2 separate regions of the Homo sapiens genome follow, and region 2 is linked to region 1. The links come from fine-mapping of genetic effects on gene expression. Tissue or cell type: whole blood. Region 1 holds a variant in brackets; the other region holds the start of a gene. All regions are shown on one strand. Distances are between the middles of the regions.

Region 1 (5,000 bases):
AACAAAACAAAAAAAAACCCCACAATAAGATATTACTTCATACCTGTTAAGATGGCCACTATAAACACACACACACACACACACCCCAAAAAAACCCAGAAAATAAAAACCGCTGGTGAGAATGGGGAGAAATAGGAACCTGTGCACTGTTAGTGGGAATGTGAAATGGTGCAGCTGCTATGGAAAACAGTATGCAGTTTCCTTAAAAAATTAAAAAATATAATTATCATATGATCCAGCAATTCTACTTCTGGGTATATAACCAAAAGAACATAAAGCAGACTCTCAAAGAGTCTAGTTTCCACCCAGTAGGTGGAGCTGACACATGGGTATTGATTAGAAGTCTATAAAAAGAGCAGTCCTAACCCCTGTCCTGTGCAGCCAGGCAGATAGCCCATCCCCTGACCCCACTGGAGATGGGAGGCTTATTCCCTGGAGAAATTAAACCAAGGAAACTTCAGACTTTGAGACACAGACACATTAAAGAATATGGGTGAAGAACAAGGCTGAAAACAGGAGTATTAGAAGAGTCTACATTCTGTATAGTGAGTCTCCGGCTCTCTTTCCCAGAACTCTCGTATTTATAACCCCACACAGGAGGTATCTGAGATACCTTCTACTCTCTTACCCCAAGTAACCAATTTACCATCAACTTCCAGTGAATTTCACCTCTACAATATCTCTCTAATTCATTTCTTCCAGCACCTGCTATTGTGAGCTAGTCTCAATTCTCATCAGGACAATTGTAGTAGTATCCAGGCTTGTTCTCCTCCTGTCCATTCTTCATTTATGGGTAGAGCCAAATCTACTTATGTCACCTGGGCCCTGTTTAGCACCTTTTAATGGCTTCCCATTGTTTTTTTATTTTTAGTTATTTATTTTGAGACAGAGTCTCGCCCTTGTCACCCAGGCTGGAGTACAATGGCCCGATCTCGGCTCACTGCAACCTCCGCCTCCCGGGTTCAAGAGATTCTCCTGCCTCACCCTCCCGAGTATCTGGGATTACAGGTGCCTGCCACCATGCCCAGATAATTTTTGTATTTTTAGTAGAGATGGGGTTTCACCATGTTGGCCAGCTGGTCTTGAACTCCTGACTTCAGGTGATATGCCCACCTCAGCCTCCCAAAGTGCTGGGATTACAGGCATGAGCCACTGTGCGCAGCCTGTTTTTTATTTTTACAATTTATTTATTTATATTTAAAAAGATGCCATGTGACACTAACCCATTGTTTTTTAAATATTCTCTTGAGTATACTAAATTGACACATATCATCTGTAAATAATAATTTTGTAAGTTCCTTCATGTAACTCTTATTTCCTTTTACTTTATTGGGTAAAACTTCCAGAACAATGTAATGAATTGTGGTCATGGCATGTATTCTTTTTTTTGTTTCTGATTTTAATATGGATGTCTGTTGTGGTTTGCTATTATATATTACATTTTGCTAATAATTTCAATTAAATGCTCTCAGTTTACTAACTTTTAGAATCAGAAACAAATGTTGAATTTTATCACTCTATTTTCAGCATGTATTATAATTATTTATATTTTTTCTTCTTAGCATAATAATAAAATTCACTTAACCAGCATTTACTAAGCAGATGGTGCCAGGCACTGTCCTCTGCACTGGAGGTAACAGAAATCAACAAGAAAGTCAAAGCCTGTGTCCTTCCCTGGCAGAGGGTGGAAGGGCAGAAGGAACGAACTTCCTCCCTCAAGCCCTTTTTTTTATAAGGGCACCTAGTCCTATACAGGGGGTGCCACCCTCATGGCTTAATCACCTCCTGAAGGCCTCACCTATTAATATTGTTAAATTGGGCATTAAGTTTCAACATGGATTTTGGAGAGGACACAAACACTCAAACCACAGCAAGTACCATGAAGAAAACTGAAGCAGGATAAGTAGGTAGAAAGTGATAGGGTGCTATTTTATTGAGATTAAGCTACAAAAATGTATTCTTAATGTTGAATTATCTTAATATTTCTGGTTAAAAATCCTACTTGATTAAATTTCATGCTTTTCAATTCGCTAAAATTTTATTTAGAAAACTTATATTGGTGTTCATAAATGAAATCTGCCTGTTTTACTCTTCTGGATTCTTATTAAGGCATTTTGGAATGA[T/C]ATTTAAAGATTTTCTTTTTTAAAAATGATTTACATAATAGAAAAAAATTTCTGATGGTTTTATTTTATAGAATTTCCCAGTAAAACCATCTGAGTGTAGTGTCTTTGGAGAGGCTTATCTTTGACATTTTCAGTTTGTTCCATAGTTATAGGTCTAGTCAAGGCTCCTACCACACTGATATGAGTGTGACCTATAATACCCTACAGGAGGAACTGATTTATATTTTCTGGAAAATGTCTTTATTTCATCTAGATTTTAATGTATTCACATAAAGTTGAATATAGCACTGTCTCATAATTGCTTACATTTCTTTCAATCTGTGGTTTTATTTTTAAATTTGCAATGTTATCCATTAGTTATTTTTAAAAAATTGTGATAGACTGGTCATGTAACTCAGGGGCCCTGGGTTTTCTGGTACACACTGAAAAAGTGCCCACTTGTAACTGTTGCACCTTGAGTTCTTGTTGTTTCAAAAAGTTCCTGGAGAAGCTCGGCCCCAGAAAAACAAAAAACAGTTGGATCCAGAGATGGCTGAGTAGGAGATGAACTTTGGCGAACTCTTATTGTTATAATCTTAAAAACCCGGCCCAGGGAGGAGCTTATTCTCCATTTTCTATACAGGCGACATATGTAGAAACATAATCCGCCGCTGTGCCTGTGCGGCCAGGACTCCCTCTCTACACGCAATGATTCAGCTGACCAGCCCAAGACATGCTCGGTTTTCACGCCTGTTTGTAGGGGCACTGCTTTGGGGCACTACCTCCGGTGTCCTCCTTACTTGTTTCAAGTAATAAAATCCCCTTGTTAAATCCTCCTTGTTTATGGTCATTGGGGGCTCACCTGGCAACAACCAAATGCACCTATTATATGAGTAGCAGCTAGAGTTTTGTCCCCATTATTGGGAGCATTTTAAAGAACTAAAGAATCATCTCGTTTTTATTTATGAAATAAATGACTTTGTTCTCGAATTCATTATATTGATTTCAGTTTTTGTTTACTAATCCTTTTGTCCTACCTTTATTTTGCTAGAGTTAATTTTTTTTCCTTTTCTTTTTCTTTTTCTTTCTTTCTTTCTTTTTTTTTTTTTGAGACGGAGTCTTGCTCTGTCCTCCAGGCTGGAGTGCAGTGGCGCGATCTCGGCTCACTGCAAGCTCCGCCTCCCGGGTTCATGCCATTCTCCTGCCTCAGCCTCCCGAGTAGCTGGGACTACAGGCGCCTGCCCCCATGCCCGGCTAATTTTTTGTATTTTTAGTAGAGACGGGGTTTCACCGTGTTAGCCAGGATGGTCTCGATTTCCTGACCTCGTGATCTGCCCGCCTCAGCCTCCCAAAGTGCTGGGATTACAGGCGTGAGCCACTGTGCCTGGCCATTTCTTGTTTATTAAAACACGTAAAGCTGTATATTTTCTTCTGCGTCTGGCATTAGCCCTATTCTGTAACTTTTACTATGTAGTATTATCATCATGATTGAGTGCTTAATATGTTATTTCAATTTCTATTTTGCTATTAATTAGGAGACTTGTAATTTTATAAAAAATGTGACTAAGCTATCTTTTTGTCATTATTTTGTAGTTTTATTGCTTCTAGTCAAAGCTACCATTTCTCAAATAAATTGAGATTTTTCTTTGTGGAATCTTTTTTTTAAATTTTTTTTGCAAATTTTTTTCTTTTTTTTTTTTGAGACGGAGTCTCACTCTGTCGCCCAGGCTGGAGTGCATTGGCACGATCTCAGCTCACTGCAAGCTCTGCCTCCCAGGTTCCCGCCATTCTCCTGCCTCAGCCTCCGGAGTAGCTGGGATTATAGGCGCCCGCCACCACGCCCGGCTAATTTTTTGTATTTTTAGTAGAGACGGGGTTTCACCATGTTGGCCAGGCTGGTCTCAAACTCCTGACCTCAAGCAATCCACCCGCCTCAGCCTTCCAAAGTGCTGGAATTACAGCCATGAGCCACTGCCCCTGGCCTTCATACTTACTTTTAATTACATATAGATTAAGGGGTGGTTTATGAAGAAATTTCCAGAAAAAGGGTAGTAATTTCTGGGTTGTCAGCTCATTGCCACGGAAAAGGGCAGTAACTCCAGGGTGTTGCCATGGCAATGGTAAACTGACATGGCACACTAGTGGGTGTGTCTTATGGAAAGCTGCTTCCACCTCATCCCTGCTTTAGCTAGTACTCAATTTGGTCCAGTGTCCAAGCTCTACCTCTGGAATCGAGTCCCACCTCCTATCTCGGATCCACTGATTGATTAGGGGTGGCAATGAAGACATTATAATTCTGTCATTCCTTCTTCATTTATTAGCTGAAATAATTCTATAAAGAAAAATGTCACCCATACTCTATTGTGCAGAATAGGCAAGATAAATACTTGACTCCCTTGATCAGTTTTCAAAATAATGTGAGTTGGTTCTTTAATGTCCCCTGAAGTGATGAATAAGTGTTGTTTCTAGGTATCATTATGAACAAATGGATTTAAATGATTTTAGATGTTTCAGTCCATTGCGATCATTATTCATTTTGGTGCTTGATCATTCCAGCTTTAGCCGGTGGGAGCCTATTTGAGTTGGATCCTCCATCCCTTGGTCATGACTCTAATTTCCTGACACCATCCTTCCTATCAGGTATGATAAGATGTTTTAAGATCATCTTGTACATTTATTCTCCACACCTGGAATTTGACATTTTCCAAATTGCTGGTCCCTTTTTAGTAGAAGAAAAAACGTCTGGTTTTTTCTTTAAAAACAATTATTTTGAGAGGAGAGAGTTAATATCTAAATTTAACTTTTAAAATATTTTTGTCAAATTAATCAATGCAAGTGTATGAAAAGTAAAATTCCGGCCAGGCGCGGTGGCTCACGCCTGTAATCCCAGTACTTTGG
Region 2 (5,000 bases), 120 kb before region 1:
TTCTTTTATAGCTTTGTATTTCCAGATAAGCATTTGACCATTCCATAATACTATGAAAATACTTATTAATGTGTTTACATTTTTGAAAGATCAGTATAAAAATAAATAATGTAACACCCAAGAATCTCTAATTTTTTCCAACCTACCTGATTGCATTTCTCTTCTTGTCTTAGAACACTCGATTCTGGGAGATTTCACAATTTCAGAGGTGCCTGAGTCTAATGTCCTTTGTTTTTCTTCGAGAGAAGAGTCTGTAGTATGTTGAACAATGTTTTTTTTCTCTTTCTTATTTTTTTGTGTAAATTCTTTGCTATCCTTCTTCGGACTTATGTTTGAATCTATCTTAAATTTACATGAGGTTTTCATTTTTTTAATTCCTATAGAATTATCTAAATCAGTTTTATTTTCAGAACCCTTGTGATTAGCCTTCTTGGTTTCTTTCTTTTTCTCAACTAGATTTTTTGAATCGATTTCTTTTTTAGTCTGGGTTTTTTTCTTCTTTATTTTCTTTTGACTCAATGCTTTGCTATCTTCACCAGAGAGATTGGAATCAGAATCTGAAAGGTCGTAAAAACGCTTCAAATCCTCTGTAGTGCTATGGCTAATGGGGCGCCCTCTTTTATCCACGGCATAGTTCAACTTGAACTTCTTGTCATGAAACATGGCTCGAAATCTCTTGTCAATTTTGACTTTTCGATCCTTTTCTGGCATTTCCCAAAATCTCGGGTCCTTTGCAACCCGTCTAAACCGCTGGTCACTCATTATTTCTTGTTTGGATGACATTTTTAATTCTTAATCTCGACCAAATGCTTGAAGAAAACAAATACTGAAAAATAAAACAAATGTTTTAATGGTAATAATGGTTAGTACAATAATTAAATGTTTTAAAACACATTCACAATATATTCTAAGTTAATATATTCTAAGTTAAGTGTACATAAAATAGAGGTAACAAGTCTAATTTCATCTCTCCAACGTATTCTGGGTCACATGCAAAAAAGCAGAAACATACCAAAATATCCTCTTTCCATGACAGATCATTTAGAGAAATAAACTTAAGGTAGACAAAGCAGAATCCCAGGGCTTTATGGAGGGGAACAAATGTTTATTCATCCATTGCTCTCACTTAGAATTTCTATTTGTATACCAGTATGTGTTACTAATTGAAGGCAAATGTAGTTAAGATTCCCTAGGCCGAGTGCGGTGGCTCACCAGCACTTTCGGAGGCCAAGGCGGGCGGATCACTTGAGCCCAGGAGTTCAGGACCAGCCTGGGTAACATGGTGAATCCCCACAAGAAATACAAAAATGAGCCCGGCATGGTGGCGCGCGCCTGTAGTCCCAGCTACTTTGGAGGCTAAGGCAAGAGGATCACTTCCACCCGGGAGGTCTTGGCTAGAGTGAGCCTAACGGCACTACAGCACACCAGCTGGGGCAACAGAGTGAGACCCTGTCTACCAAAAAAAAGTAAGAAAGAAAGATTCCCTAGCCTCCGTTGGCCTCATTTGTTTCTTCACATTCTGGTCTCATTCTGCTTACTCCTTATCTCCGGCTACTGCCAACAAACAGCCTTTAGTTCTGTAAGACTAGCATTCTAACTAAACAGACCAAAATCAACTCAGGTTTAGCTAAGAAAGTTTCCTTTTTAAATTCGATCATCCTTCAAAAGTAATAAAAAGTTTAAAAATAAAAAGTAAATTTGAGTCTCCAGGTAAAGTCTCACACCAGTTAATAAATATCACTTCTTTCTATAATATCTGATTCTACCAGTGATGAAGGCCCAAGTGAGCTCATTCCCCCAAAACATACTAGAACATATACATATGTGTGTATAAATTAATATTGTTCCCTTGTGAAAAGTCTCCAATGGTTTAGCATCTCTGGATGGGAATTTTGCAAAGAGCCAAAAGTCGTTGATTATTAAGCAACCCCCCCCCAAAATGATTAAAAGGGCAATATTTCTTATTTAAAAATCAAGTCCTTTTAATTACACTAACTAGGAAAAAAAAGGAAGCTATCGCTGGTGCATTTACACATTTTTCGATGTATTACAGCACTTAACTCTCTGAGCAATCTTACGAGGTAGGTACCACCTCAACCAGGAGAAGTACTGCATGTATTGTAAATGTTTAGAAGGAAAGCACTCATTATATGTCAGATAATCCGAGAGAGGGGAAGGCGACCGGACCTCACTCCCGACACGCGCCCGCATCCCCGTAGCCCACCCTCCCCTTCTGCCCGCTCTCTAATTCGGAGAACACAGGGCTGGCCCCTGAACTAGGGTCTCCTTTCCACCTCCTGTACCGCAGGGGGGCAGCTAACAGACTGATTCGAGAAGCGACCCTGAAAAGGATCGATGAAGACTGAAGAATGAGACCGAAAAAGGCTCAGGAGGAAGGGGCAAAACCCCTCGCAGATCCGAAAGAGATCCTGTTAGAGACTAGTTTTTTCCCCGCGCCACACACACACACGCCCTCAAGCCCTTCATCTCGAGCTCTTCAACTCCAGTCCATCCCCACTCACCGTCCGCAGTCCTACCAAGCCTCACGTGGGGCTCACACCCACAATCCTCCGCGTGACGCTCCGCCGTAATGGCAAGCGAACTAGGCCAAACTACTTGCACGTTCCCTCGAGAAGATCTTTGGAGTAGACACAAAAGCCGCGCTGGCGCATGCGCACAAAAAGCGCCGGCAATTGGGGTCGCAGCTGGAGATGCTGCGGCCGGCAGGGCTCTGGCGCTTATGTCGGCGACCTTGGGCGGCGAGGGTCCCAGCGGAGAATCTTGGCCGTAGGGAAGTCACCTCTGGTGTCTCTCCCCGCGGTAGCACCTCGCCCAGAACCCTGAATATTTTCGACCGGGATTTGAAAAGGAAACAGAAGAACTGGGCAGCCCGGCAGCCCGAGCCGACCAAATTTGACTACCTGAAGGAGGAGGTGAGCCCGCGGGGCGGCGGGGCGGCGGGGCGGGCGACGCGGAGGCTTGTTTTCCTCTCCGCTAGTTCCGGCTAGGCCCCGAGCTCACCCCACCTAGCCGTCTGACCTTGACCAGCAGCCCTGCCTCTTTCGGCCTCTACTGTAATCACGCAAGGCCTGGCCTCGGATATTTGTAACATGCTTTCATTCATTCATGCATTCATTTCGGCAACGTCCTTGAGGCTGAAAGGACCTTATAGAGGCCTCCAGTGAAGCTCCGGAGAGGGAGAGAGTGGGAGAGAAGGTTAGGAGGACCCAAATCATCAGGGCCTTGCAGGATAGGGACTTGGGGTTTTCTTCTGTATCTGCACTGTCCAGCCAGTATGGTAACTGCCGGCCACACATGTGGCTGTTGAACACTTGAAAGGTGACTAGTCCAATTGAGATGTGTTGTAAAATACACACGAGTATAGTGACTTAGTATGAAAAAAGGATGTAAAATAGCTCATTAAGAGCTTTTATATTGATTACATGTTGCAGTGATTATTTTTGATATATTGGGTCACATGAAATATATTAAATATAAATTTAAATTTTTCAATTAAAATTTCTCTCGTTTTTACTTTTTTTCTTATGTGGCTACTAGAAAATTTGAAATTACATATGTGGCTCTCATGATTTTTGGTCAGCACTGCTCTAGGGGAATGTGAAGCTCTTGTTTTAATCAGTGGAGTGATCTGACTTATGTTTTAGGAAGATCAAATTAAGATTTCTGATTTGTCTTGGCTCGTTTGAGAAACCTTTCTCCCTGCCCAGGTGAGCCAGAGACTGAGGGTTTCTACTTTCAGGACACGCATTCTCAAGTTCAGGCCTCAGTAAATTTTTATTCAGGAGTGGAACAAAGTTGGAGTCAAGTATAATGCAACAAACAGTTATTGAACTCATAGCTTGAGCAGAGCTCTGTGCAAGTACAGGTCTGATCAGATGATTGACAGGGTGTCTTTCTCAGGAAGTCTTAGGCTGGTAATGTCTATTATAGGAAGTTTACTACCAATAAATTTTTTGTGTCTCACTTGTAAGGCATGGTGCACGTACTACACTGCTGATGTCGTGTACTTAGAAGATGTGCGCTCATAGCCCTTTCCCTCCAAAGAAAGCACCTGGACTACAACTTGATTGAGGCCTCGCCAATTTGTGAGACTAGAACAAATAAGATAAAGTATATGAGAGTTCTTTTTATAATAAACATAGGGTGTTCATATTAGGAATGACGTACAAGGTGGACTCCTGGGAAAAACATCTACGCTCCCTTCTCCCTTGCCCTTCTCTCAAAAAGCAGGTACATCTGTGTTTGGAACTTTTAAGTCCTAAGAGCAACTCTGGGGTGTTTATGAGGGAATGAGTGGAATGTGGGGAATACTAGACTCCCACGTCTTTATTGCTACCAGATGAAGCTAGGCCAGCAAAAGGTGGTGCTTACCTTATGACTCTTAAATTGGGATGGGATTGGAGCAGGGGAGGTGCACTTTCCTCAGATTTGGCTTTTTCTAACTTGCGAATGTCACTCAGAAAAGTTGTTCATTTATGAGTTCCACAAAATTTGTTAGTCATCAAATAATAGAGTTTTTCTTAAGTGACCACTTACATACTCATCTACAATAAACCCCAACTAACTAATTTTTCACTTTGTGTACCTCATGCTAATATCCGTGGACAGTAATGTGCCTGTTGTGTTCCTTTTGCTTTTCATCCTTGTGATCTTATGTCACATGGAATGTAAAGGCCACATATATATATGTGTGTGTGTGTGTGTGTATATGTATATTTTTAAGAATATTTAGTCTGGATTTCATGAAATTGACTTCTGAAATAATTTGCCTCAATTTTGTTTCCTGGTGGTTTGAGAAGAAAGTTCCTGTGGTGAAATTGAAAAGGGGATAAAGGGAAGTACTTATTTTAAAACATAAGTAACTTGTGGATTGTTGAATACTGGAAAAAGAGTGTTACTTCCCCGTTAACCTACGCCTCGTGTAATCCTTCAGGTTGGAAGTCGGATCGCAGACCGTGTATATGACATACCCAGGTAAG

Evidence for each region. PIP is the estimated chance that this variant, and not a neighbour inherited with it, causes the effect.
Region 2: it holds the start of NDUFAF5, and the variant in region 1 is fine-mapped to the expression of NDUFAF5 in whole blood (TOPMed, PIP above 0.99).

Annotation. Positions count from the first base shown.
Region 1 is chr20:13,897,878-13,902,877 of GRCh38, forward strand. All of the region lies in intron 5 of SEL1L2 (SEL1L2 adaptor subunit of SYVN1 ubiquitin ligase), which reads right to left. Among named protein-coding and RNA genes, the nearest start is that of SEL1L2, 90 kb to the right of the region's middle. The variant T/C (reference allele first, on the strand shown) is at 2,124.
Region 2 is chr20:13,782,358-13,787,357 of GRCh38, forward strand. It overlaps NDUFAF5 (NADH:ubiquinone oxidoreductase complex assembly factor 5), which reads left to right and starts at 2,671. Exons shown (of 11, transcript NM_024120.5): 1 at 2,671-2,933; 2 at 4,955-4,995. The coding sequence starts at 2,712. It overlaps ESF1 (ESF1 nucleolar pre-rRNA processing protein), which reads right to left and starts at 2,562. Exons shown (of 14, transcript NM_001276380.2): 1 at 2,523-2,562; 2 at 147-826. The coding sequence starts at 783. RefSeq lists enhancers at 2,607-2,896, 2,892-3,581.